Linked DNA regions of Homo sapiens: regions 2 and 3 are each linked to region 1. The links come from fine-mapping of genetic effects on gene expression. A gene starts in region 1. Each other region holds a variant in brackets. All regions are shown on one strand. Distances are between the middles of the regions. Region 1 holds the start of DPP7 (dipeptidyl peptidase 7). Region 2 overlaps MAMDC4 (MAM domain containing 4). Region 3 holds the start of SAPCD2 (suppressor APC domain containing 2).

The links. PIP is the estimated chance that this variant, and not a neighbour inherited with it, causes the effect.
Region 2: its variant is the best candidate, but not a certain one, in a credible set for the expression of DPP7 in whole blood (INTERVAL, PIP 0.77).
Region 3: its variant is the best candidate, but not a certain one, in a credible set for the expression of DPP7 in whole blood (TOPMed, PIP 0.83).

The regions. Positions count from the first base shown.
Region 1 is chr9:137,110,557-137,119,973 of GRCh38, forward strand. DPP7 (dipeptidyl peptidase 7) reads right to left here and starts at 4,177. Exons shown (of 13, transcript NM_013379.3): 1 at 4,091-4,177; 2 at 3,907-4,020; 3 at 3,687-3,826; 4 at 3,309-3,472; 5 at 2,805-2,940; 6 at 2,650-2,731; 7 at 2,397-2,563; 8 at 2,189-2,249; 9 at 1,556-1,674; 10 at 1,317-1,473; 11 at 1,134-1,198; 12 at 324-394; 13 at 1-227. The coding sequence starts at 4,157. The coding sequence ends at 92. LOC124902314 (a long non-coding RNA gene) reads left to right here and starts at 4,243. Exons shown (of 2, transcript XR_007061874.1): 1 at 4,243-6,488; 2 at 6,615-7,222. RefSeq lists silencers at 3,873-4,022, 4,053-4,402.
Region 2 is chr9:136,853,094-136,857,794 of GRCh38, forward strand. MAMDC4 (MAM domain containing 4) reads left to right here. Exons shown (of 27, transcript NM_206920.3): 2 at 9-116; 3 at 192-365; 4 at 452-577; 5 at 684-814; 6 at 899-983; 7 at 1,118-1,243; 8 at 1,446-1,583; 9 at 1,669-1,757; 10 at 1,844-2,017; 11 at 2,161-2,245; 12 at 2,338-2,526; 13 at 2,639-2,755; 14 at 2,925-3,056; 15 at 3,617-3,733; 4 more. Among named protein-coding and RNA genes, the nearest start is that of MAMDC4, 3.1 kb to the left of the region's middle. RefSeq lists an enhancer at 4,551-4,701. The variant C/T (reference allele first, on the strand shown) is at 2,009.
Region 3 is chr9:137,067,289-137,077,440 of GRCh38, forward strand. SAPCD2 (suppressor APC domain containing 2) reads right to left here and starts at 3,269. Exons shown (of 6, transcript NM_178448.4): 1 at 2,602-3,269. The coding sequence starts at 3,172. RefSeq lists enhancers at 488-1,468, 821-870, 3,431-4,410, 6,994-7,607, 7,318-7,377 and silencers at 1,171-1,220, 2,597-2,646, 2,697-2,746, 2,917-3,326, 10,062-10,151. The variant C/T (reference allele first, on the strand shown) is at 8,038.

The sequences.
Region 1 (9,417 bases):
AGGCGTTTATTCAGCCCCTTCCCTCTGCCGCCAGCTGCTTGAGTGAAGCCCCCACTCCATGAGGAGCCTTGAGACCCCTCCAGTCCTGTGCTCAGAGGCTGAGTCTGGGCCCCCCACGCAGAGCTGGCTGCTGCTCACGCCTGGCTGCCTTTACCCACTCGCCGATGATGGTGGCCTCCAGCTTCCGCGCCTCAACCACGGAAGCAGGATCTTCTGGGTGGGAGGCTCTGGGGAGCGGGCACAGAGGGGGCCCGTCAGCCCCAGCCCTCGGTGAGCCTGTCCCGCCCGACCCGCGACCACCGCCAGGCCACCTCCCTCCGCACCTGAGGTCGAGGTGGTGCGCTCCCCCCTGGATGGTGACGGCGATGACTGAGGCACTCAGGTTCCTCCGAATCTGTGGTCAGTGGAAAGAACTCCATCAGGTGAGGAACGAGGCAACTGCCCAGCCTCCGTGGGCCCATTGGAGAGGAGACGTGAGAGGGCGAGCCGAGACTCAGTGCCCATCAAGCAACCAGAGAGAACCAGCCAGAGACGGAGGTGGGAAGTGACGAGATGATGGGGGCAAAACCGGGTGAGACAGGAGCAGGGAAGGGGCAGGTGTGAGGCCTGTGATCCCAGCACTCTGGGAGTAAGACAGGAGCAGGGTAGGGGCAGGTGAGGGGCCTGTGATCCCAGCACTCTGAGGGTGAGACGGGAGCAGGGTAGGGGCAGGCGAGGGGCCTGTGATCCCAGCACTCTGGGGGTGAGACGGGAGCAGGGTAGGGGCAGGCGAGGGGCCTGTGATCCCAGCACTCTGGGGGTGAGACGGGAGCAGGGTAGGGGCAGGCGAGGGGCCTGTGATCCCAGCACTCTGGGAGGCCATGCGGGGAAGATCGTTTGAGCCCAAGAGTTCGAGACCAGCCTGGGCGATATGGTGAGACTGTGTCTCTACAAAAAAATATTTTTTTAAATTAGCTGGGCATGTTGGTGAGCGCCTGTAGTCCCAGTTACTGGGAGGCTTGAGCCTCAGAGGTCAAGGCTGCAGTGAACCCTGATCTCGCCACTGTATTCCAGCCTGGGCGCCAGAGAAAGACCCTGTCTCAAAAAAAAAACAAACAAACTAACGGGGTCATAGGGCCCAGGCCAGGACTCACCCCGCCCCCTGCCCAGGGGTCCAGGTTCCCGTTGGAGAAGATGATGTTGCTGGCGGCTCTGAGATCTGCAAGGGGCAGAGAAAGTTGTGATGTGGGCCCCTCACGGGGGCTGTGAGCCATGGGCAGGGGGTGCAGAGCTCGGGGCAGAAAGCAGGACGCTGGCCCACCCCCCCTCAGCCTTACCACCCCCCCAGAAGCTGGTCAGCAGCCAGTCGGGCCGGGGCCACACGCCCCAGGTGTCCAGGCAGTACCGCTGGCGGAGCTCGTCAGTGAAGGGCAGGTCCGGGAACATATCGGTCACATTGTTGCTGGCGAAGGTCAGGTTGATCTCGGTGCAGGCCTGCAGGTGCCCCAGCCTGAGTCAGGCCAGCCCACGCCCACCCTTGCCCCCGAGTGGTTCCAGGCCACCCACACCCCCACACCTGGTAGTCCCAGGCCCTGGCGTCGGGGCCGGTGCCGCAGCCAGTGGGGTCAGCACAGCTGTGGTAGAGCCGGTAGATGTCGTAGCAGTGCTCGGAGCCCGAGGCGTTGTAGACCAGCCCTGGGGAGGAGAGGCGCTGGGGCCCAGCGGCCACACACAGACACACCGCGGGCTCCGGCCACCAACCTGTCCCCCCTCGGAATGGTCCTGCAGGGGATCTGGGGCTCTGGGATCTGTAGGTCCCAGTGAGGAAGGCCCTCCAGGCTACCTGCTTGGAGGTCGGCGGTGTCTGTGCTGCCAGCCCCGGGCCTGACTGTTGAGGGCCCCCCCGCTCTCCACGGGGCAGGGTGGGGCCTGCTGCCCTCTGTTGCCCTCCATGCTGGGGACCCCAGGGGCCCCTTGGGCAGCACCCACCAAGCTGGGCCTGGCTACAGCCAGTGCTGAGAGGGTCCCCAGGGACGGCCCCTGCCTCCCCCAGGGTTTCTGGGAAGGTCGTGCTGTCCACCCCACCACAGCCCTGGGGCAGGAGGCAAAGCCCCTGGCCGGGCTGCGGATCCTCGCCCCACCCGGCCCCAGGACCCAAGCCAAGCCTGGGGTCTCCACACTTGCCCATCTGGGGCCGGGGGAAGGGCACCTGCCAGTGCTCGCAGCCCCGTGATCCTCTGGGCCTCACTCAGCAGCCGATCACAGCCCACCTGGAGTGCAGGGGCAGCGGCGACTCAGCGGGGTCCCCTCCACCAGCTCCGCCTCCCTGGCTCCCAGGATGAGGGTCAGGCCGCTGACCACCAGCCTCGGGACACTCCAGCCGGCCTCTCCCTGCGCCCTGGGAGGCGGCGCCTCACCTTGACGGGGTTGGCAGGGAGGGGACCCAGGAAGTCAGTGGGGTAGGGGTAGTCCATCATGGCCAGCACGGTGAAGGCATTCCGGGCGAACATGAAGAGCTGGGTCAGGTCCTTCTCGTCTGACAGCGGCTGGCAGGTGCCGAACTCCCAGCGGACCGTGTCGTAGGCTGCGTGGAAGGGGCAGAGACTTGAAGTTTGGGCATAGCTGGCGCTGGGGCGGGTCAGGCAGTGGGAGGCGGTGGGAGGACCTCACCTCCCTGTAGGAACAAGTCCTTGATCTGTCGGAACGCTTCCCGCACACCCTGGGTGCATTTGGGACTCTGGCCCTCAAAGTCCTGGGGGAAAGAGACCGTGCTGACTGCAGCTGCTGTCCCTTAGGGGGCCTGGAGGACCCCAAGCCTCACTCACCGCCGTGACGTCCCGGAAGAACTGGTTGGAGTCGCCGAGGCCTGCCACAGCTAGAACGGGCGCGCTGGCCGCCAGCGCCCCCGCCACCAGGTGGGGATACTTCATCCTCAGGTAGGCACTGAGCATCCCCCCATAACTGGGTGAGGGACACAGGGTTAGGGCTGCTGCCCCCAACACCCCATTTCCTCTTTTCCTCCTCAGGGGCCCACAGGTGCCACAAGGAGGACGACACTTCTGAGACCCACAAATTCCAACCCTGGGCCAGGTGCGGGTGCAGCTCTCACTGGGAAAGGCCGCTAGTGTGGCCGCACATCCAAGCTGAGCAGGTGGCTGGGAGGACAGGTGGGAGGGCTTCCTGGGGGAGGCAACACTAAGCCTGGAACCACTGCCTGAGGCCTTACGAAAAGGCAGCGGTGGGAGTCAGAGGGGAGTGGGGAGAAGGGCTGGGGGCGCTGGGTCGGGGCAGGGGAGGGAGGGGGTGCGGAGGCCGGGGGAGGCGCCCACCTTCCACCGAAGGCGATGGCGGGGGCATCCTGGGCCCCGAGGTCGCGTCGTAGCGCGCGGAGCAGCTCTGCGAAGTCGGCCAGGGCCTGCTCCACCGTCAGCAGCTCCGTGTGCCCGCGCTGCGTGGACTGCGCACCGAACGGCAGCGACTTCCCGTAGTAGCGCTGGGGGAACGTGCCATTGAGCCCGGCCCCGCGACCCCGCCCGGCACCCGCGTGCCCCGCGACCCCCGCCCGCGACCCCGCCCGGCACCCGCGTGCCCCGCGACCCCCGCCCGCGACCCCGCCCGGCACCCGCGTGCCCCGCGACCCCCGCCCGCGACCCCGCCCGGCACCCACGTGCCCCGCGACCCCGCCCGCGACCCCGCCCGGCACCCACGTGCTCCGCGAAGACCAGTAGAGCCCCCCGCTCGGCCGCCAGCTCCGCGACGAAGGCCGAGTTGTTGGCGAAGGCCCACACGTCGCCCTCGTTCCCAGTGTAGAAGAAGATGGGCCCCTCGCCCCGGACCCAGAACCTGTCTGTGGGGAGGGCGGATGAGGCGAGGGTGCCGGGGGGCGGCGGGACGGCGGGGGCGGCCGGGCCGGGGCCGGGGTCTCACCCGACACCAGGAAGCGCTGAGGGAAGGTCTTGTTGCCGAAGCGCTCGAAGTTGAAGTGGTCCAGACGCTGCTGGAAGAAGCGCTCCTGGAAGCCGGGGTCCGGGGCCCTGCGGGCTGTGGGGGGACGCGAACCTCAGAGGCGGGGCCGGGACCGGGGAATGGGCCGGGGGGCGCCGCCACTCACCCCCCGCCTGGAGGCCGCGCAGCCCGAGCGCCAGCAGCAGGACCGGGGCCCAGGGAGCGGAGCCCATGTCGCCTTCCGCGGGCGCCCGTCACGTGGGCGGGGTCACGGGGCCGCCAGGGCGCGCTCCTCCCTCCAGGCCCCACGTGTTTCGGGCGCCCGCGGTCCCCACGGAGACCGTCGCTGCTTCAGCGCCGCGCCGGGGCTGTGCCCCCCAACACCCCGCGCCCCGCGGCCGCTGCCCAGGGGTCCTTCCCGGGCACGGCGCGGGGAAGCAGAGGGCCCCCGGGCCATCTCCGCGGCCTCCCGCCCCACTGGCTCGTCCTCCTACCGCGGCCCCATCCGGAGCTGCGCTAGGGCGAGTCCCTGCTGCGCCCGCCAAGCCTCCCCAGCACTTGCTCCTGGCAGGTGCCCCACTCCAAGGCAGGGCCGGGAGAGTGGGGGCCGTTCTGCTGCCCTAAGGGCGGGAGGGAGAGGGTCCCAAACAGAGTGCTGGCCCCCCGAAGAAAGCAACCCAGGGTTTGTCCAAGCGATAACGGGCTGGGCTTGGCGGGGCGGGGCCTCGCAGCGGGCAGGAGTGTGGGGTGCCCCTGGAGCGTCTGGGCAGGGCCGGGATGTGGCCGGGTAGCTCCCAAGAGCTGGGAATCGCCACCTGCCCTTCCGACTGGCACCCAGTGTGCCCACACAGCCCTGCAGGGACAAGGGGGGACCAGAGGCCTCTGCTGGGAGCTGGGGCCTCCTCCCTGGGGAGCACCCAGAGGATGGAAGAAGTCACCTTTCCCCAGCGTCCAGTTCAGGGAGTGGGTGAGGGGGCCGTAGTGGTGGGTGCCAGACTAGCTACGTGGAGTCCTGCTGGGGATGTACATGGGCCGCTAGCCAGGCCCAGAACAGGTGCAGGGGCAGCAGGGGCTCAGCTACAGAGAGTTACCCTGTCCTTCTCCCAAGACTACCCTCGGCCAGCATGACCCTGCCCTGCCCATCCTGTGTGGGGCTGAGCGGAGAAGACCGGCCACTTCCACAGCCCCTCACGCCATGGCCCTCCCGTGCCTCACACAGAGGCACCCCCCATGGTGGGTGACTGGTGGCTGGGGCCCTCAGCATGGTGGCAGTGACCATCACGTCACACTGCAACACGAGGTCATCCAGGGCCACACACCGTCCCCACCACGGCCCTCACATCTGGGCCCTGTCCCATCCCTACGCAGTTCCTGGGGCTGCCTGCCGGGGCCCCCGCAGGACGGGGGTGAGGACAAACAGCAGACCTCCTTGGATGTGGAGGTACCCCACGGCGTCCCCCACCCCACACCTCTGCTCCTTTGGCTCCCTCGGGTGCCTTAGGTGGCCAGAACTCCACCAGCAACCCTCACCCAGGACCGCAGCTCTGGAGACGCCAGCTAGGCCGAGAGCTGGCCAGCTCCCCAAGCACACCAGAGCCTGGAGACGCTCCAGGCTTGGCTGGGCCCACAGAGGGGCCAGAGCCTCAGGGAGGGCTCCAGGAGCAGGGTTTCCAAGGAAGCCACTTTCCCTCTTGTCCACGGCCCAGGCATTGATGCCCCTCTGGGCAGCAGCCAGGGCCTCCCAAGCCGGGAAGGGTGGGCATGGGGCTACCCAGCATGGCTCTGCCAGGGGTGAGGGTGGCCACAGTCCCCTGCCCACATCCCTGTGCCCACAGAAACATATGCTGTATGGAATCAAGGTTTAAGGCATCTAGGCCTGTGCTGGTAACCTGTAACCTTAGCCCCATCCCTGTGCCCACAGAAACATGTGCTGTATTGACTCAAGGTTTAGGGGATTTAGGGCTGTGCAGGATGTGCTTTGTTAACAATGTGTTTGCAGGCAGTATGCTTGGTAAAAGTCATCGCCATCCTCCATTCTCCATTAACCAGGGACACAGTGCACTGCGGAAAGCCGCAGGGACCTCTGCCCAAGAAAGCCTGGGTATTGTCCAGGTTTCCCCCCAGTGAGACGGCCTGAGATATGGCCTCGTGGGAAGGGAAAGACCTGATCGTCCCCCAGCCCGACACCCATAAAGGGTCTGTGCTGAGGAGGATTAGTGAAAGAGGGAGGCCTCTTTGCAGTTGAGATAAGAGGAAGGCTTCTGTCTCCGACATGCCCCTGGGAACGGAATGTCTCCGTGTAAAACCCGATCGTACATTAGTTCTATTCTGAGACAGGAGAAAACCGCCCTGTGGCTGGAGGCGAGATATGCTGGCGGCAATGCTGCTCTGTTACTCTGCTACACTGAGATGTTTGGGTGGAGAGAAGCATGAATCTGGCCTACGTGCACATCCGGGCACAGCACCTTCCCTTCAAGCTATTTGTGACACAGATGCCTTTGCTCACATTTTCTTGCTGACCTCTGCTCTGCTGCCGCATTCCTCATGCAAAGATAGTGAAAATGGTAATGAATAAATACTGAGGGAACTCAGAGACCGGGGCCGGTGCGGGTCCTCCGTATACTGAGCGCCGTCTCCTGGGCCCACTGCCTTCTCTATACTTTGTCTCTGTGTCTTATTTCTTTTCTCAGTCTCTCATCCCACCTGACGAGAAACACCCACAGGTGTGGAGGGGCTGGCCACCCCTTCACTGGCACAGCAACCTGACATGTGAAGGGGCCCAACTTCTGCAGGAGGACCCCAGGTCTGCATCGCCAGGGCCCTCGTCAGCCTGTGCAGGGCACAGTAGGTCACCCAAGGGGCAAGTGAGCCTAGGCTGCCCATGCCTGTGCAGACACCCCCGATCTCTCTCTGCCCATCCCCGGAGCAGCACAGACGGGCAGGTTGGCTGCAGAGCCACCAGCTGAGGGGGTGAGAGGTCCCTGGGCAGGGAATCCTGGGAGCCTGGCCAGCAAGGGTGAGAGGCTGCTGAGCCCAAACCCTCCCCTCGAGGTCCATCTGCCCTCTCCAGACCATCTAGGCAGCTCCTCCACACCCCGATTCCTGCTGGGACACCCAGTCCCACCCTCTATGGCTCACAGACTGGGGGCCATGCCCGGCCACACATCACGTCTGTGCTGTCCCTCAGACTGAAAGGCTATCGGCGGGCGGCTGGCCGTGACCTACTGCATCCGCACTTGGGGCCGTGCTGGTCTGTGTGCTGAATTATACATAATATAAAATTGACCACTTAACCACTTCCGCGTGTGAAATTTGGTGGCATTAGGTACATTCCTGCCTTCACAACGCTGTGCACCGTCATCACTATTTTCCACTATCTCATCACCCCCAGTAGAAACTGTAGCCATTAAACAATGGACCCCAGCCCCTGGCACTCACCATTCTACCATCTGTCTCTGTGGCTCTGCTGACTCCAGGTACGTCATATCAGTGGAATCCTACAGCATTTTGTCCTTTTTTTTTTTCGAGACAGAGTCTCACTCTGTTGTCCAGGCTGGAGTGAAGTGACACGATCTCGGCTTACTGCAACTTCCGCCTCCTGGGTCCAGGCCATTCTCCTGTCTCAGCCTCCGGAGTAGCTGAGATTACAGGCACCCACCACCACGCCTGGCTAAATTTTGCATTTTTAGTAGAGACAGGTTTTCAGCATGTTGGCCAGGCTGGTCTTGAACTCCTGACCTCAGATGATCTGTCAGCCTCAGCCTCCCAAAGCGCTGGGATTACAGGCGTGAGCCACCACACCCGGCCTGTTTTAGCCATTGTGAATATTGATGCGATGAACATGGCTGTGAAATGCCTGCTTTTTTTTTTTTTTTTTTTTTTTTTGAGACAGTCTCGCTCTGTTGCCCAAGCTGGAGTGCAATGGCGCAATCTCAGCTCACTGCAAGCTCCACCTCCCGGGTTCAAGCAATTCTCCTGCCTCAGCCTCCTGAGTAGCTGGGATTACAGGCGCACATCCACATGCCTGGCTAATTTTTGTATTTTTAGTAGACACGGGGTTTCACTGTGTTAGTCAGGATTGTGGGTGGCAAGCCACTCAGGTGCCAAGGCAAGAGACCGAGGACATGAGCTGTTCCAGTATAATAAAATATAAAACAAGAATAGTTATACCAGATATAGATCTTAGATATGATTATATATGAATATAATTAATCATTAGTAGTACTTATTCTTTATTCCAATATTATAATAATCCTCACTCTACAATCATAACCTAGGAAAAACCAGGCCATACAGAGATAGGAGCTGAGGGGACATAGTGAGGAGTGACCAGAAGACAAGAGTGCGAGCCTTCTGTTATGCCAGGACAGGGCCACCAGAGGGCTCCTTGGTGTAGCGGTGATGCCAGCATCTGGGAAGACACCTGTTGCCAAGCAGACCATGGTCTAGCAGTAGCGTCAGTGTCAAGGGAAAACACCTGCTACTTAGCAGACAGGGAAAGGGAGTTTCCCTTTCCCCTGGGGAGTTTAGAGAAGACTCTGCTCCTCCACCTCTTGTGGAGGGCCTGACATCAGTCAGACCCGCCCGCAGTTATCCGGAGGCCTAACCGTCTCCCTGTGATGCTGTGCTTCAGTGGTCACACTCCTAGTCCACCTTCATGTTCCATCCTGTACACCTGGCTCTGCCTTCTAGATAGCAGTAGTCAATTAGTGAAAGTACTAAAAGTCTCTGATACGCAGAAATAATGGCGTAAGCTGTCTCTCTCTCTGTCTCCTCTCCCTCTCTCTGCCTAGGCTGCCAGGCAGGGAAGGGCCCCCGTTCAGTGGACACATGACCCACATGGCCTTACCTATGACTGGAGATGGCTCACACTCTTTACCCTGCTCCTTTGTCTTGTATCCAATAAATATCAGTGCAGCCTGCCATTTGGGGCCACTACCGGTCTCTGCGACTTGGTGGTAGTGGTCCCCCTGGCCCAGCTGTCTTTTCTTTTATCTCTTTGTGTTCTGTCTTTATTTCTACACTCTCTCATCTCCACACACGGGGCGAGACCCACTGACCCTGTAGGGCTGGTCCCTACACAGGATGGTCTTGATCTCCTGACCTCATGATCCGCCCACATTGGCCTCCCAAAGTGCTGGGATTACAGGCGTGCGCCACCATGTCCAGCCTGTGGTTTTGATTTGCATCTCCCTAACGATTAGTGATGTTGAACATTTTCCCTGTGTTGACTGGCCATTTGTATGTCTTCTTTGGAAAAATGCCTATCAAATCCTTCGCCCATTTTTGAATTGGGTTGTTTTTTGTTGAGTTTTATGATTTTTAAAAATCATCTGGATTGGCCGGGCATGGTGGCTCACGCCTGTAATCCCAGCACTTTGGGAGGCCGATGCGGGTGGATCACGAGGTCAGGAGATCAAGACCATCCTGGCTAACACAGTGAAACCCCGTCTCTACTAAAAATACAAATATATATATATATATATATATATG
Region 2 (4,701 bases), 260 kb before region 1:
CCCAGCAGCAGGGTCCTCAGGCTGGGCCTGGGTCCCCAACCACTGCAGGAGCCCTGGCCAGGCCGTGTGCAACTTCGTGTGTGACTGCAGGGACTGCTCAGATGAGGCCCAGTGTGGTGAGCCAAGACCAGATGGGCGGGCAGGGCCAGTGCGAGCAGGTCTGGCACACACCTGACCACCCACTCTCCCAGGTTACCACGGGGCCTCGCCCACCCTGGGCGCCCCCTTCGCCTGTGACTTCGAGCAGGACCCCTGCGGCTGGCGGGACATTAGTACCTCAGGCTACAGCTGGCTCCGAGACAGGGCAGGGGCCGCACTGGAGGGTCCTGGGCCTCACTCAGACCACACACTGGGCACCGACTTGGGTGAGGCCAGGGCAAGTCTCTGTGCGCCCCTGTCCCAATACCCTCCTTGCTCCCTGCCCCGTCTCCTGACCTCTCACCTGCGCCAGGCTGGTACATGGCCGTTGGAACCCACCGAGGGAAAGAGGCATCCACCGCAGCCCTGCGCTCGCCAACCCTGCGAGAGGCAGCCTCCTCTTGCAAGCTGAGGCTCTGGTACCACGCGGCCTCTGGAGGTGCACCCTGGACCCCCAAGGCTCGTGGGGGGTGCCCAAGGGGAGGGCGGGTGGGCAGCTGGGGACAAGCAGGGCCGCAGCTGCCCTGGGACCCCTGACATTGCAGATGTGGCTGAACTGCGGGTGGAGCTGACCCATGGCGCAGAGACCCTGACCCTGTGGCAGAGCACAGGGCCCTGGGGCCCTGGCTGGCAGGAGTTGGCAGTGACCACAGGCCGCATCCGGGGTGACTTCCGAGTGAGCTGGGAGGGTCTGGACGAGTGGGGGCCTTGAGGAGGGGTCTGGGCCCTGACTTAGGTCCTAAGAGCCTGTTCTCTTCAGGTGACCTTCTCTGCCACCCGAAATGCCACCCACAGGGGCGCTGTGGCTCTAGATGACCTAGAGTTCTGGGACTGTGGTCTGCCCAGTAAGGCACCGCCTCTTCCTGTTCCACCCCCGGGAGGGCCCCCACCTGCCCACTCCCCTGCTCAGACCCTGTCTGCCCCCGAGTGCTCTCCCACTCCTGGGGCCTCGGTGAAGGGTTAACCCTGCCCCACCCAGCCCCCCAGGCCAACTGTCCCCCGGGACACCACCACTGCCAGAACAAGGTCTGCGTGGAGCCCCAGCAGCTGTGCGACGGGGAAGACAACTGCGGGGACCTGTCTGATGAGAACCCACTCACCTGTGGTGAGGCCGGAGTGGGGGCCCAGAGTGAGGCTGGGAGACTGGACGCCTCGGTGGGGGCCCTGGCACTCATCCAGGAGGGGGTGCCTTGGATCCTTGGATGGTCCTTCTTGGGGTGTGGTTGCCAGGGCCCCCCTGGAGCTGGGGCCATACGGCTTCAGGAAGCACTGCCTGGTGGCCCTGACACGCCCACCTCCTGCCCTAGGCCGCCACATAGCCACCGACTTTGAGACAGGCCTGGGCCCATGGAACCGCTCGGAAGGCTGGTCCCGGAACCACCGCGCTGGTGGTCCTGAGCGCCCCTCCTGGCCACGCCGTGACCACAGCCGGAACAGTGCACAGGGTGAGGCCCACAGAGGACCCGGCCCAGGCCCTGCCCACGCAGCCACAGCCCAGTGGCCCTGGCCCACTCCCGTCCTTTCCCGCAGGCTCCTTCCTGGTCTCCGTGGCCGAGCCTGGCACCCCTGCTATACTCTCCAGCCCCGAATTCCAAGCCTCAGGCACCTCCAACTGCTCGGTGAGATGGGTGGGGCTCACAGGGCCTCCCTGCTCTCCGTGCTGGCTGCCCCGGTGCAGGCCCCCAGCCAGCTCTTGGTTCCACAGCTGGTCTTCTATCAGTACCTGAGTGGGTCTGAGGCTGGCTGCCTCCAGCTGTTCCTGCAGACTCTGGGGCCCGGCGCCCCCCGGGCCCCCGTCCTGCTGCGGAGGCGCCGAGGGGAGCTGGGGACCGCCTGGGTCCGAGACCGTGTTGACATCCAGAGCGCCTAC[C/T]CCTTCCAGGTAGGGAACAGCAAGAGGGTGGGGTCTGGGGAGCCGCACTGTGGGCAGGGGAGGGGAACCCACAAGGTACCCACTGCGGGTGGACAGGGACCAGACCCCAGGGGGAAATAGGCTGGGCACCCCCTGAGCCCCTCTGCCCTCAGATCCTCCTGGCCGGGCAGACAGGCCCGGGGGGCGTCGTGGGTCTGGACGACCTCATCCTGTCTGACCACTGCAGACCAGTCTCGGGTGAGCCTGCTGACTCTGCCCTACCCTGCCTTGCCCTGGAGAGGCACAGCACTCCCCATCCCTGCCTCCTGACACCAGTTCTGCCCCCACAGAGGTGTCCACCCTGCAGCCGCTGCCTCCTGGGCCCCGGGCCCCAGCCCCCCAGCCCCTGCCGCCCAGCTCGCGGCTCCAGGATTCCTGCAAGCAGGGGCATCTTGCCTGCGGGGACCTGTGTGTGCCCCCGGAACAACTGTGTGACTTCGAGGAGCAGTGCGCAGGGGGCGAGGACGAGCAGGCCTGTGGTAAAGGGGCTCAACCTCCTGCAGACCTCCTGCTGCGGAGCCAAGGGGGTAGGCGCCGGGGCAGGCTGAGGACTCTGAGGACTCTGCCATTCAGTGCCGGCTGCTGTTCCAGGCACCACAGACTTTGAGTCCCCCGAGGCTGGGGGCTGGGAGGACGCCAGCGTGGGGCGGCTGCAGTGGCGGCGTGTCTCAGCCCAGGAGAGCCAGGGGTCCAGTGCAGCTGCTGCTGGTGAGGCCCAAGGCCCAAGGCTCAAGCCCCCGCCCGGGTGTGAGCAGCGTCCTCAGAGGGGTCTCTGCTCTGCCTCTGCACTACAGAGGGTCTCTGGACTGGGGATCCCTGAGGGACAGAGTGGGGCCCTGGAAGGGATGAGGCTCTGAGCACCATGCTCTTCCCCTAGGGCACTTCCTGTCTCTGCAGCGGGCCTGGGGGCAGCTAGGCGCTGAGGCCCGGGTCCTCACACCCCTCCTTGGCCCTTCTGGCCCCAGCTGTGAACTCCACCTGGCTTATTATTTACAGAGCCAGCCCCGAGGTACCGCCACACTCCGCAAGTTCCCTGGCCAGCCCCTGGGTGCTCCCTGCACAGTGGGAGGGGTCTGGGGCCGGGTGACCCACAGTGCCCCCCGCCCCGCTGGCCAGGCTTCCTGGCACTAGTTGTGGTGGACAACGGCTCCCGGGAGCTGGCATGGCAGGCCCTGAGCAGCAGTGCAGGCATCTGGAAGGTGGACAAGGTCCTTCTAGGGGCCCGCCGCCGGCCCTTCCGGGTGAGGAGGGCAGCCCAGAGTGGGAGCTCCGCTGGAGCGGGCCCTGACTTAACCATCCTCCTCATCCCCCTACCCCATGAAGCTGGAGTTTGTCGGTTTGGTGGACTTGGATGGCCCTGACCAGCAGGGAGCTGGGGTGGACAACGTGACCCTGAGGGACTGTAGCCCCACAGTGACCACCGAGAGAGACAGAGGTTCCTGCTGCCCATCCTCACTCCCACCTGGGTGCTCCCCTTACACTCCTCCAGGGACCCCGGAGCTTCCACCTTCTCAGGGCTCTGGAGGGGGAGGGGAGAAGGTGTGTGACGCCACCTGGCCCCACCCCCAGAGGTCTCCTGTAACTTTGAGCGGGACACATGCAGCTGGTACCCAGGCCACCTCTCAGACACACACTGGCGCTGGGTGGAGAGCCGCGGCCCTGACCACGACCACACCACAGGCCAAGGTAGGATGGGCGCTCAGACCGGGGGTGGCTTTCAGACGAGAGTGGGGCATCTCTGCAGCACAGCCCCATGCCCCCTGCAGGCCACTTTGTGCTCCTGGACCCCACAGACCCCCTGGCCTGGGGCCACAGTGCCCACCTGCTCTCCAGGCCCCAGGTGCCAGCAGCACCCACGGAGTGTCTCAGCTTCTGGTACCACCTCCATGGGCCCCAGATTGGTGAGTGGACCTGGAAACAGGGCAGAGCCTGTGGGGAGGCCCCCGGGGGTTCAGAGTCCCCCGCTCTGACACCCATCAAGGCACAGGAGAGAGGTCAGTTATGGACTGGTCCCCTCCCTGCAGGGACTCTGCGCCTAGCCATGAGACGGGAAGGGGAGGAGACACACCTGTGGTCGCGGTCAGGCACCCAGGGCAACCGCTGGCACGAGGCCTGGGCCACCCTTTCCCACCAGCCTGGCTCCCATGCCCAGTACCAGGTGAGGCCTGGCACCCGGGTGGGAGGACAGGGCAGGGCCCCTGGCCAGCTGACACCCTCCACCCCCAGCTGCTGTTCGAGGGCCTCCGGGACGGATACCACGGCACCATGGCGCTGGACGATGTGGCCGTGCGGCCGGGCCCCTGCTGGGCCCCTAATTACTGCTCCTTTGAGGACTCAGACTGCGGCTTCTCCCCTGGAGGCCAAGGTCTCTGGAGGCGGCAGGCCAATGCCTCGGGCCATGCTGCCTGGGGCCCCCCAACAGACCATACCACTGAGACAGCCCAAGGTATGGGGGCCTGGCAGGGGCAGGGATTGAGGGGCTGGCCAGGGGCTGGCAGGCTGATGCTGGCACCTCCAGGGCACTACATGGTGGTGGACACAAGCCCAGACGCACTACCCCGGGGCCAGACGGCCTCCCTGACCTCCAAGGAGCACAGGCCCCTGGCCCAGCCTGCTTGTCTGACCTTCTGGTACCACGGGAGCCTCCGCAGCCC
Region 3 (10,152 bases), 43 kb before region 1:
GGCAATACCCCATTTCTATTAGAAACACAAAAATTAGCCTGGTGCAGTGGCATGCACCTGTGGTCCCGGCTACTCAGGAGCCTGAGGCAGGAGGATTGCTTGAGCCTGGGAGGCAGAGGTTCCACTGAGCCCAGATTGCGCCACTGCACTCCAGGCTGGGCAACACAGCAAAACTTTGTCTCAAAAAAAAAAAAGATCCCTTGCCGGGCACGGTGGCTCACACCTGTAATCCCAGCACTTTGGGAAGCTGGGGCGGGGGGGGATCAGTTGAGGTCAGGAGTTCAAGACCAGCCTAGCCAACATGGTGAAACCCTGTCTCTACTAAAAATACAAAAATTAGCAGGGCGTGGTGGCATGCACCTGTAATCCCAGCTACTCGGGAGGCTGAAGCAGGAGGATCGCTTGAACCCAGGAGGCGGAGGTTGCAGTGAGCTGAGATTCGCGCCACTGCACTCCAGCCTGGGCGACAGAGCAAGACTCCATCTCAAAAAAAAAAAAAAAAAAAAAAAAAAAAGTCCCGCGTGTGTGATACGCCAGGCGGTGCACCCAACTGACAAGTCAGGCACGTCCTGGTGCTCACAGACCCCTGCTCTGAAGTTTGTTTGAGGGCTCCCCCTGGGGGCAGCCAAGAGTATCGCGTTGGTGCCACTCCGGCCCAGCTTCCTGGTGAGGGAGTAGGTGCACCTCCCCAGGCTACAGAAGTGGGTACAGGTGTGGAGGAAGGCATCCTCCTTCGGCCTCCAGCTGTAGCCCCAGCACCAGGCACATCCTTAGAGGCCATGCCCCTGGCACCTGGCCACAGGAGTCAGGGAGTGATGCAAGAATTGGGCCCAGGTAGGCACGGCAGAGAGCCTGGCTCCAGGCAGGCCCGAATTCGCACTCCAGCCTGCGGTGCTGAGCGGCTGGCAGCTCTGGGGCAAGACAGTGGAAGAGCACACAGCCCTTCAGGAGGTGGGAGCAGAGAGGGTACAGACAGAGGGAGGCCATAGAGGAAGTCCCAGGACACCTGGGCCCGGTCTGTACAGTTGAGTCCATAGAGCAGCTCCTGGGTCCCCAGATAGCAGCGTGCTGGGTGATGAGCTAGATGGCCTCTAGGTGGGGGTGGTGGCTCTGCCCCTCCAGGGCCCTGAGCCAGCAGGCCACACCTCCAGGGCCACAGCCAGCCTGGAGCAAACACGCAGTCCCAGGTGGGAACAAGGAAAGAGGCCCTGAACATCTGGGCTGGGGGCTTGGAAGGCTGTGTGTGTTGGCAGGCTTTCTGGGAGTTGGGGTGACCTCAGAGCTCCAGATTTGACACCCCAAAAGCCAGCTGTGTCAATCAAATATGTCACGCCATTTGTCTGGCCCTCCGTTTGCCTGTGAGAGGGTGACAGCTACAGCCCTAGCCATGTGGCCTTCAGGGAGATGTGGTACGTGAGCCAGTGCCGCATGGGGCATCAGAGCAGAGCAGGGGTGGACCACAGGCTTAGGCCTCCAAACCCCAGGCCCGGCCACAGCGTGCAATCCCATGGCTGATTTCAAACTGCATGGCCACATGGATGACGCTGACCCTGCATTTGGAGCCAGATACCCTCTGAAGGTTCCCTCACCATAGAACTAGGGGTCCCCCAGCCTGGTGTGGCTGCTGGATCAGATCACCAGGGAGGCCAGGGCCGCCGTGGCTCCAAACACCAGCTGTAGGGCTGGAGAATATGGCTGAGGTGGGGGAGCAGTACAGGGAGGGTGGCAGAGCAGCAGGCAGCACAGGGACCGGCAGGAGCCACCGGTGGGCAGGCCTCCCCTGGCAGAACGGGTGCACAGGCCGAATGGGCTGTGGGGCCTGGGGCCCCTCTGGGAGCTTGGCCCCCCAACCCCAGCCATAATACAGGTCCTGTTCCCAAGGCAGGCACTGGGTTGGGGGAGACAGGGGACCATTCAGCAATCTCCCATCACTGCCAACTGGACCGGAAGGCAGGAGAGGAGTGTGCCAGCCATCCCCAGGGACTACGGCCTATGTCCCTCCATGGCATCTGCCATAGTACAGCCCCACTGGGGTGCAGGAGATCCACCCACGCCCCTGCCCATCTTGGCAACAGGGCCAGGTCCTCTTGGGCCACCAGCAGCAGCCCCCGCCTGCCTAGGCCTCAGTGGGGTCAGTGGGCCCAGCCCCCCTGGCTAAGCTGTCACACTGAGAAGGGGGACCCTTTCTTTGAGAAGGAAGCACTTCTGCCTGAGCAGCCACAGACAGGAGGCTGAGGGCCCAGGTGTCCCCAGGTGCGGAAAGGGTATTGGAGATGGAGAGCCCAAGCTCAGGCTTGGTACAGGTTGGGCTCCCGGTGGGTTTTCTGAGTCACCTGCCACCCCCCGGCCCTGGTGGCCTTATGCTGTGGCAGGAGAGGGTCTGGCTTGCCTCCCTAAGCAAGCCCCTGGGCTCACCGCGACAAGCATGAAGCCCTTTCCCTCCAGACCCGCCGAGGCGCCCTCCAGGATCCGGAGTCCACGAAGAGCCGCTCCCCGGTCCCGTCCCTTGTGGGAAATGCACGGGCAGCAGCTGTGGGACTGCGGTTTCTGGCCCGGGCCCGGGAGAGCTACGAGGGTGCCCGGGGGCCGTCCGGAACTCACCTGCGTCCGCGCTGGAGCTCGGTTCCAGCGCCGCGCTCTGGGACCGCTCGGGCTCCGCGGGGCAGGGCGCCGCCTCAGCCGGGGCGCACAGCTGCTCCGGGCTGCGGGCGGCGGCGCTGGGACCGGCCAGAGGGGCGCGCACGCCCAGGGGCAGGGGCTTCCTCTCCAGGACCGTCCGCGGCTCGTCGGCCGGAGCGAACACCAGGCGCTGCGGCGGCGGCGGCGGCTGATCCCCGGGCCGGGCCGGGGCGCGCGTGGGGTCCCGGGGGCCGCCGTCGGCGCTCAGCAGGGAGGTGCGCAGGCCGGCCACGAAGCGCTCGAAGGTCAGGTAGCCGCTGGCCGGGGCCACCTGGCGCAAGCCCTCCAGCACCCCGCGGGGCAGCTCCCGCGCGTCGGTGCCCTGCCAGCGGGACTCGATCTCGCGCAGGTGCACGCAGCCGCGCCGCCGGTCGTCCAGGATGTCGAACAGGGTGCGCAGGCTCTGCAGGAAGGCGCGCGGCAGCCCCTCCGTGCTGGGCGCGGGTGCGGGGGGAGGCACGCGGCCCCGCTCGGCCATGGCGGCCCCGGCCATGGGCGCCCGGGATCGGTCCCCTCGTCCACCCGCGTGCGTCCCAGCGCGGCCCCACGGAGGGGCCGGCCCGGCGAGCTCAGCCCACGGCGACAATAGCGACTACTTTTGAATGGGGCCCTCCTCGCGGCGTCAGCCCTCATTAACATGCGCCGCGGCCATTGGCCGAGCCCGTCCCATCTGCTCTCTGATAGGCTGAGAGGAGGTTTGATTTTTTTTTTTTTTTTCTTGCCGAGTGGCCCTGGGAGGCGCGCGGAGGCCCTGGGCAGGCGGAACCGGATCCCCCAGCTCCTGCTCCACTCTGGCCTCGCAGACCTTCCTTTCTGCCCCGCCCCAGCCCCACCAAACCTCCTGCCGCGGCCAGGCGCTTTCTCGGATCCAGCTGTGGCTGGCTGCCCCGGCCACCTCTCCAAGGGGCGGGGCCTGGCACCCTACAAAAAAACCTGTCTCCAGGTAGCCTCGTGGGGTAAGAATGGGGGGGGGCACCCCCTCCAAAGATCCCACTTTTCCCCTCTAGTTCCCTGGCCGCAAGCACAGGTGACCCTGCGGCCCCCTTCTCTTCCACCAGGAGGGCCCCAAGAGGATCGTAGGCTCCAGCCAGCTGGGCGCTTCCCACTCACAGAGGCCTTTCTGTCCCCACTGCTGCTGGCTCCTCCTCTGGTCCCTCGGGACAGTCTGGCCTGGCCTGCCTGCTGCAGAACAAAGCCACTTTCTCCTGTGTCCCCAGATCCCCATCTAGTGACCAGCTCCCTCTGCCTCTTGCTCTCCTCTCCTCCTTCCCCTGGCTGGACACCTCCTCCAGCTGCTCTCCTGGCTCCCGCAGCCCTGTCCCCCTGCCTCTGCTGTGTTTCCAGCTGGGATCTGGTCACTCTGTCTTCATTTGGTCTGTCCACATGGGAGGTGAGACCAGGCCTTAGCCTGGGTTCTAGCCCTGGGAGCCCATCTCAGGGCTGGCCAGTAGTACCCTCTAGGTTCCAGGGAGGTGTTCAGGGTGCAAACACCCTCCCCAGACAGGCCCCCAATCCGAGACTTGCCTTGGCCCTCTGCGGGTCTCCCACCCTCCCTCCTGGGCAGGCCTCAGCTGGCATACCTACCTGGGTCTCTGTCCTCAGGCCTGAGCCACTGGTGCCTGTGTCTCAAGCTGTAGAGGCATCTTCCCAGGCCAGGGAGTATCCTGGGTCCACTTCTCTTCTGGGTCACTCACTCTAAGTGGGACTCCTTCATCGTAGGGAATGCTGGAAGGACATAAGAAGCTCTGAGCCTGGAGCAGCCCATCAGAGCTTGGTCCTGTAAGCCAGCTTCCCCTTTAATGGCTGGTCTGCTCAAAAACCCAGCACGAGGCCGAGGCGGGAGGATCACTTGAGCTGGGGAGTTCAAGACCAGCCTGGGCAACATAAGGCAACCCTATTTCTACAAAAAGTTTAAAAAATTAGCCAGGCGTGGTGGTGCATGCCTGTGGTCCCAGGTATTTGGGAGGCTGAGGTGGGAGGATCCCTTGAACCCAAGAGGTTGAGGCTGCAGTGAGCTGTGATTGAGCCACTGCTCTCCATCCTGGGTGACAGAGCGAGATCTTGTCTCAAAAACAAAACAAAACAAAACAAACCAGCACAACACGCAAGCCCCCGCCCCCCCATCCCCACACCTACCCTGCTTCCAGCACACCCCTCACCGCCAGTGCCAGGCCTGGGGTCCCTGCACTCCCTCACTTCCAGGCCCCTGTGCCTGGTGGCTCTTCTACCAGGAAGGCCCTTCCCCTCTGCTCCAGGCTGACCGCACTACATCCTTCAGAACTCTGCTCTGGCCCCAGTCCCCTTCCCCCTGAAGCCTAGTTAGATAAAACACAGGGGACAGCTTTCTCCTGGCCCAGGGGGCCCTGGCTATTTGCAAGCAGGACAGGGCTCCTTCTAGGCCTGGCATTGGCCTGGCCCACAGTGGGTGCTCTGTGAATGGCACTGGGGAGCCGTATCCAGTGAAATCATATGGGAAACACCATCCTTGAGTGGGCACCAAGCCAGGCTGAGGCCTAAGGGATGGGGAAGGGCTGGGAACAGCTCAGTGGTATGGCAGGGGAGGCCAGTGTGGATGTGGAGTCGGTGGCCAGCAGTGAGCAAGGCTGCTGCAGCTCAGGACAGCGTGGCCAGCAGTGTCCAGGCCAGGCCAGCCATGGCCCCGCATGGAACTGAACCCACCGTGCAGATGAAACAAGGGCTTTTCATACCATCCAGAGCCTTGGGGGAGGCGGCCCCAGCTGGCCCTTGGTCTGTGGGCTTCTCTGTGGCCCCTGGCTGGGTATTGGAGGAAGGTATGAAAAAGACTGGAGGCCGGGCACGGTGGCTCACGCCTGTAATCCCAGCACTTTGGGAGGCCAAGGCGGGCGGATCACCTGAGGTCAGGAGTTCGAGACCAGCCTGACCAACATGGAGAAATCCCGTCTCTACTAAAAATACGAAATTAGCCGGGCATGGTGGCCCATGCCTGTAATCCCAGCTACTCGGGAGGCTGAGGCAGGAGAATAGCTTGAACCCCGGAGGTGGAGGTTGCGGTGAGCCAAGATCGCGCCATTGCACTCTAGCCTGGTCAAGAAGAGCAAAACTCCATCTCAAAAAAAAAAAAAAAAAAAGGCTGGGCACGGTGGCTCATGCCTGTAATCCCAGCACTTTGGGAGGCCAAGGCGGGAGGATCACGAGGTCTGGAGATCGAGACCATCCTGGCTAACATGGTGAAACCCCGTCTCTACTAAAAACACACACACACACAAAAAATGAGCCGGGCGTGGTGGCGGGCGTCTGTAGTCCCATCTATTCGGGAGGCTGAGGCAGGAGAATGGCGTGAATCCAGGAGGCGGAGCTTGCAGTGAGCCGAGATGGCACCACTGCACTCCAGCCTGGGCGACAGAGCGAGACTCCGTCTCAAAAAAAAAAAAAAAGACTGGAGGCTGTGCCTGGCTTTGGGCGTGGAGCTAAGATGTGGTCCTGTGTCCTTCCTGTCCTGAGCTCTGACCACTTCCTCCTTCACTCCACTTTCCGGCTGGCCTGATAGTTTCCCAATCCTTCAGGTTTTAGTGCTGTGTCACCCCTGGGGGTCCCATGCTGTCCCTGTACTTTTGGAGGCCCCATCTTAGCTGTAATTGTGTTCTCACTGTGTAAGCCTGGACCACTCTGGGCAGAGGTGGCAGGAAGACCGGCCCCTCTGTCCCCTGATGTATCCCCAGCAGTGGGCACCAAGTGAAGAACTGGCAACAGCCACCCAGCCCCTGAGCCTCCCAGGGCTCCCCGTCTGCACTCCTGGCCTCTGAGCCTTAGGGCCTTGCTCCCCTGGGCCTCTTGTGAAGACAACTGCCTGGCCACAAGGTGGTCCAGGAGGTTGCTGCCCACCTCAGCCTTGCCAGCACTCCCACCCATCCGTAGGCTCTGTCGGTCTGGGCAGGGTCGCTCCTCCCCTTCTGGTGCCGCAAGTGCCTCTGGCTGTACAAACCTTGATTTTCCAAATCTTCTATTACAGCCCAACCCACACCTTGAGGTGGGATTTGGAATCACCCTGACCTACAGGGCCAACAGTTCATGTCCTGACACCTGCCTCCAAGAGACATGTGCCTCCTCTGCTGCCCAGCCCTGCAGGGGTGATAAGGGTTCCCATGGACTCTGGCCTGGGGCGGGAAGCCTGCTCTGCTCACCGGATTCCGCGAGCCTCCCCTCCAACTCCAACGTTCACCTAAACGATGTTCAACCACCACAAACCACTGGAGCAGAACAGGCCATTCATTAATTCATTCATGCAGCAGGTACTCCCTGAACATTTGCTGTTGCCCAGTCACGGTGTGGGCTGGGGTTCAACACTCGTTTGTTCAATCAACAAACATTGATTGAGTGCCTACTGTGTGCTGCATTTACCTGAGGTGATGGGGGCAGACCACTGGCCTAAACAATGCCCTGCCTGGGCTGGGCACGGTGGCTCATGCCTGTAATCCCAACACTTTGGGAGGCCGAGGCGGGCAAATCATGGGGTCAGGAGTTCAAGACCAGCCTGGCCAACCATCGCTACTAAAAATACAAAAAATTAGCTGTGTGTGGTGGCGGGCGCCTGTAATCCCAGCTACTCAGGAGGCTGAGGCAGGAGAATCACTTGAACCCGGGAGGCGGAGGTTACAGTGAGCCGAGATTGCACCACTGCACTCCAGCCTGGGCGACAGAATGAGACACGGTCTCAAAACAAAAAACAAAACAAAACAAAAACAGCAACTCCCCGCCTTTGTGGGGTTCGCTTCTCACAGGGGAGTCAGGTAGCCAAGAATGCAGAAAGGCAGCCTGGCACGGAGGATGGGAAGGTGCTCACCGAGTGGGCGTGGCCTGGGGAGCTGAGGCCTGACCAAATGCGTCCCCAGCCACACGTTTCTCTGGGGACAAGCGGTCCAGGAGGGAGGAACAGGAAGTGCAGAGACCCTGAGGCAGGCCCGAAAAGCAACTCCATGCAGGTCCAGAAGAGTGCATGTGGGCCTTGCCCCAGGGGTGAAGCCCCCTCCCAAACTCAGTGAGGGCATGTGTGTGGAGGTGGGGGCAGAACCCAACTGCAAGGAAACACAACTGCCTGAGGGGTCCACGGGGCAGCATGAGGGAGATGTTAGTTTTCATTTTGGGTCCTAGATCACTGTCAGAGGTGTGTGAACCAGAGCAACTCCATCTTGAATGGGAGCTGGGTAAAATAAGGCTGGGGCCTACTGAGCTGCATTTCTGGATGGTTAAAGGATTCCAAGTCAGGATGACACAGGAGGTCGGCACAAGATACAGGTCACAAAGACCTTGCTGATAAAAGAGGTTCCGATAAAGAAGCCGGCCAAAACCCACCAAAACCAAGATGGCAACGACAGTGAC[C/T]TCTGGTTGTCCTTGCCGCTACACTCCCACCAGCACCATGACGGTTTACAGATGCCACTGCAACGTCAGGAAGTTCCCCTATATGGTCTACAAAGGGGAGGGATGAATTATCCACTCCTTGTTTAGCATGTCATCCAAAAAAACATAACAATGGGCAACCAGCAGCCCTCAGGGCTGCTCTGTCTGTAGAGAAACCATTCTTTATTCCTTTACTTTCCTGATAACTTGCTTTTGCTTTACTGTATGGGCTTGCCCTGAATTCTTTCTTGCGCAAGATCCAAGAACCCTCTCTTGAGGTCTGGAACCTCTTTCCTGTAACAGCATGATTTGTTTTTCTTTTTCGGTTTGTTTGTTTGTTTTTTGAGACAGAGCTTCGCCCTTGTTGCCCAGGCTGGAGTGCAATGGCGCGATCTTGGCTCATGGCAACCTCCGCCTCCCAGGTTCAAGCGATTCTCCTGCCTCAGCCTCTGGAGTAGCTGGGATTATAAGCATGCAACACCATGCTTATATATTTATATTTATATTTAATATTTGTATCTATTTTTAGTAGAGACAGGGTTTCTCCATGTTAGTCAGGCTGGTCTCAAACCCCAGACCTCAGGTGATCCGCCCGCCTTGGCCTCCCAAAGTGCTGGGATTACAGAAGTGAGCCACTGCGCCCGGTTTTTTTTTTTTTTTTTTTTTTGAGACAGAGTTTCGCTCTGTCACCCAGGCTGGAGTGCAGTGGTGCGATCTTGGCTCACTGTAACCTCCGCCTCCCGGGTTCAAGTGATTCTCGTGCCTCATCCTCCCAAGTAGCTGGGACTACAGGTACACGCCACCACACCTGGCTGATTTTTGTATTTTTAGTGGAGACGGGGTTTCACCATGTTGCCCAAGCTGGTCTTGAACTCCTGGGCTCAAGCGATCATCCTGTCTCGGTATCCCAAGGTGTTAGGATTACAGGCATGAGCCACTGCACCTGGCCACCATTTGAATTCTTTTATGCAGTCACATATATTACTTTTAGACTTACTATATAGTTTCTAGGAGAAAGTTTTGTGCCCAACTGGCAGAAGCTACCCTTTCATATTTTTCACAAGCAAACTATTTTATTTTTATTTTTATTGAGAAGTCTCACTCTGTCTCCCAGGCTGGAGTGCAGCAGCAGGATCTCGGCTCACTGAAACCTCCGCCTCCTGAGTTCAAGGCCTCCTGCCTCAGCCTCCCGAGTAGCTGGGACTACAGGCGCCTGCCACCACACCCGGCTAATTTTTCTATTTTTATTAGAGACGGGGTTTCACCATGTTGGCCAGGCTGGTCTCGAATTCCTGACCCCACTTAGGACTCCCAAAGTGCTGGGATTACAGGCTTGAGCCACCGCGCCGACCACAAGCAAGATATTTTAAAACCTGATAGTAAAATAACAATGTGGGCGAGGGGCTGCAGAGCGCTCTGGTCACCAGGCAATGGGAAGCAGGAAGGGTGTGCGGGAGGGAGCCCCAAGCCGCGGGATGGCATCCCGGAACCTGGTCTGGTTCCAGCCTCCCAACAGCTCAGCCGTAGCCCAGGCCTCTTCAATGCACTCTGGCCGGTTGTCTCTGCACCAGGAGGTCTCCGTCCAAGTCTTGGTTAGCGCAAAGGTGGCCATGCCACTCTCAGGTTCAAAGCCCGTGCTGGGACAGAACCTAGCTTTCCCCTGCGGGGCGTCCCTGGGGCCTCTTCCTCCCTTAGCTCAATGGTCGATTCCTCTGCCCACGCCAGCTGGCGCGACCCAGAGGGTCCTGGGATCTCTCGGGGCGGGGCGCGGAGTGGACAGGGCGGGCATGGGCCCGGGGCCTGGAGAAGAGCAGGAACGGGGACGGGAGCTCGAGGGAGCAGGCCAGGGCCAGACACCGGAGCGGGTCCAGGGGACGGAGAGGGACGGGGGACAGGCTGGAGAGATGGGGCTGGGCCCTGTCTCGAGTCTCGGACCGGACGCGGGGGGGCTGGGGGGATGTAGACAGGGCGGGGTCAGAGAGAACCCGGACAGAGTCTGGGGTGCGCAGCGGGGGTGGGCGGGCTCCAGGGCAGGGCGCGGGACCGGGCGGGATGGGGCGGGGCGGGGCGGGGCGGGGCGGGGCGCCCGGGGCCCGC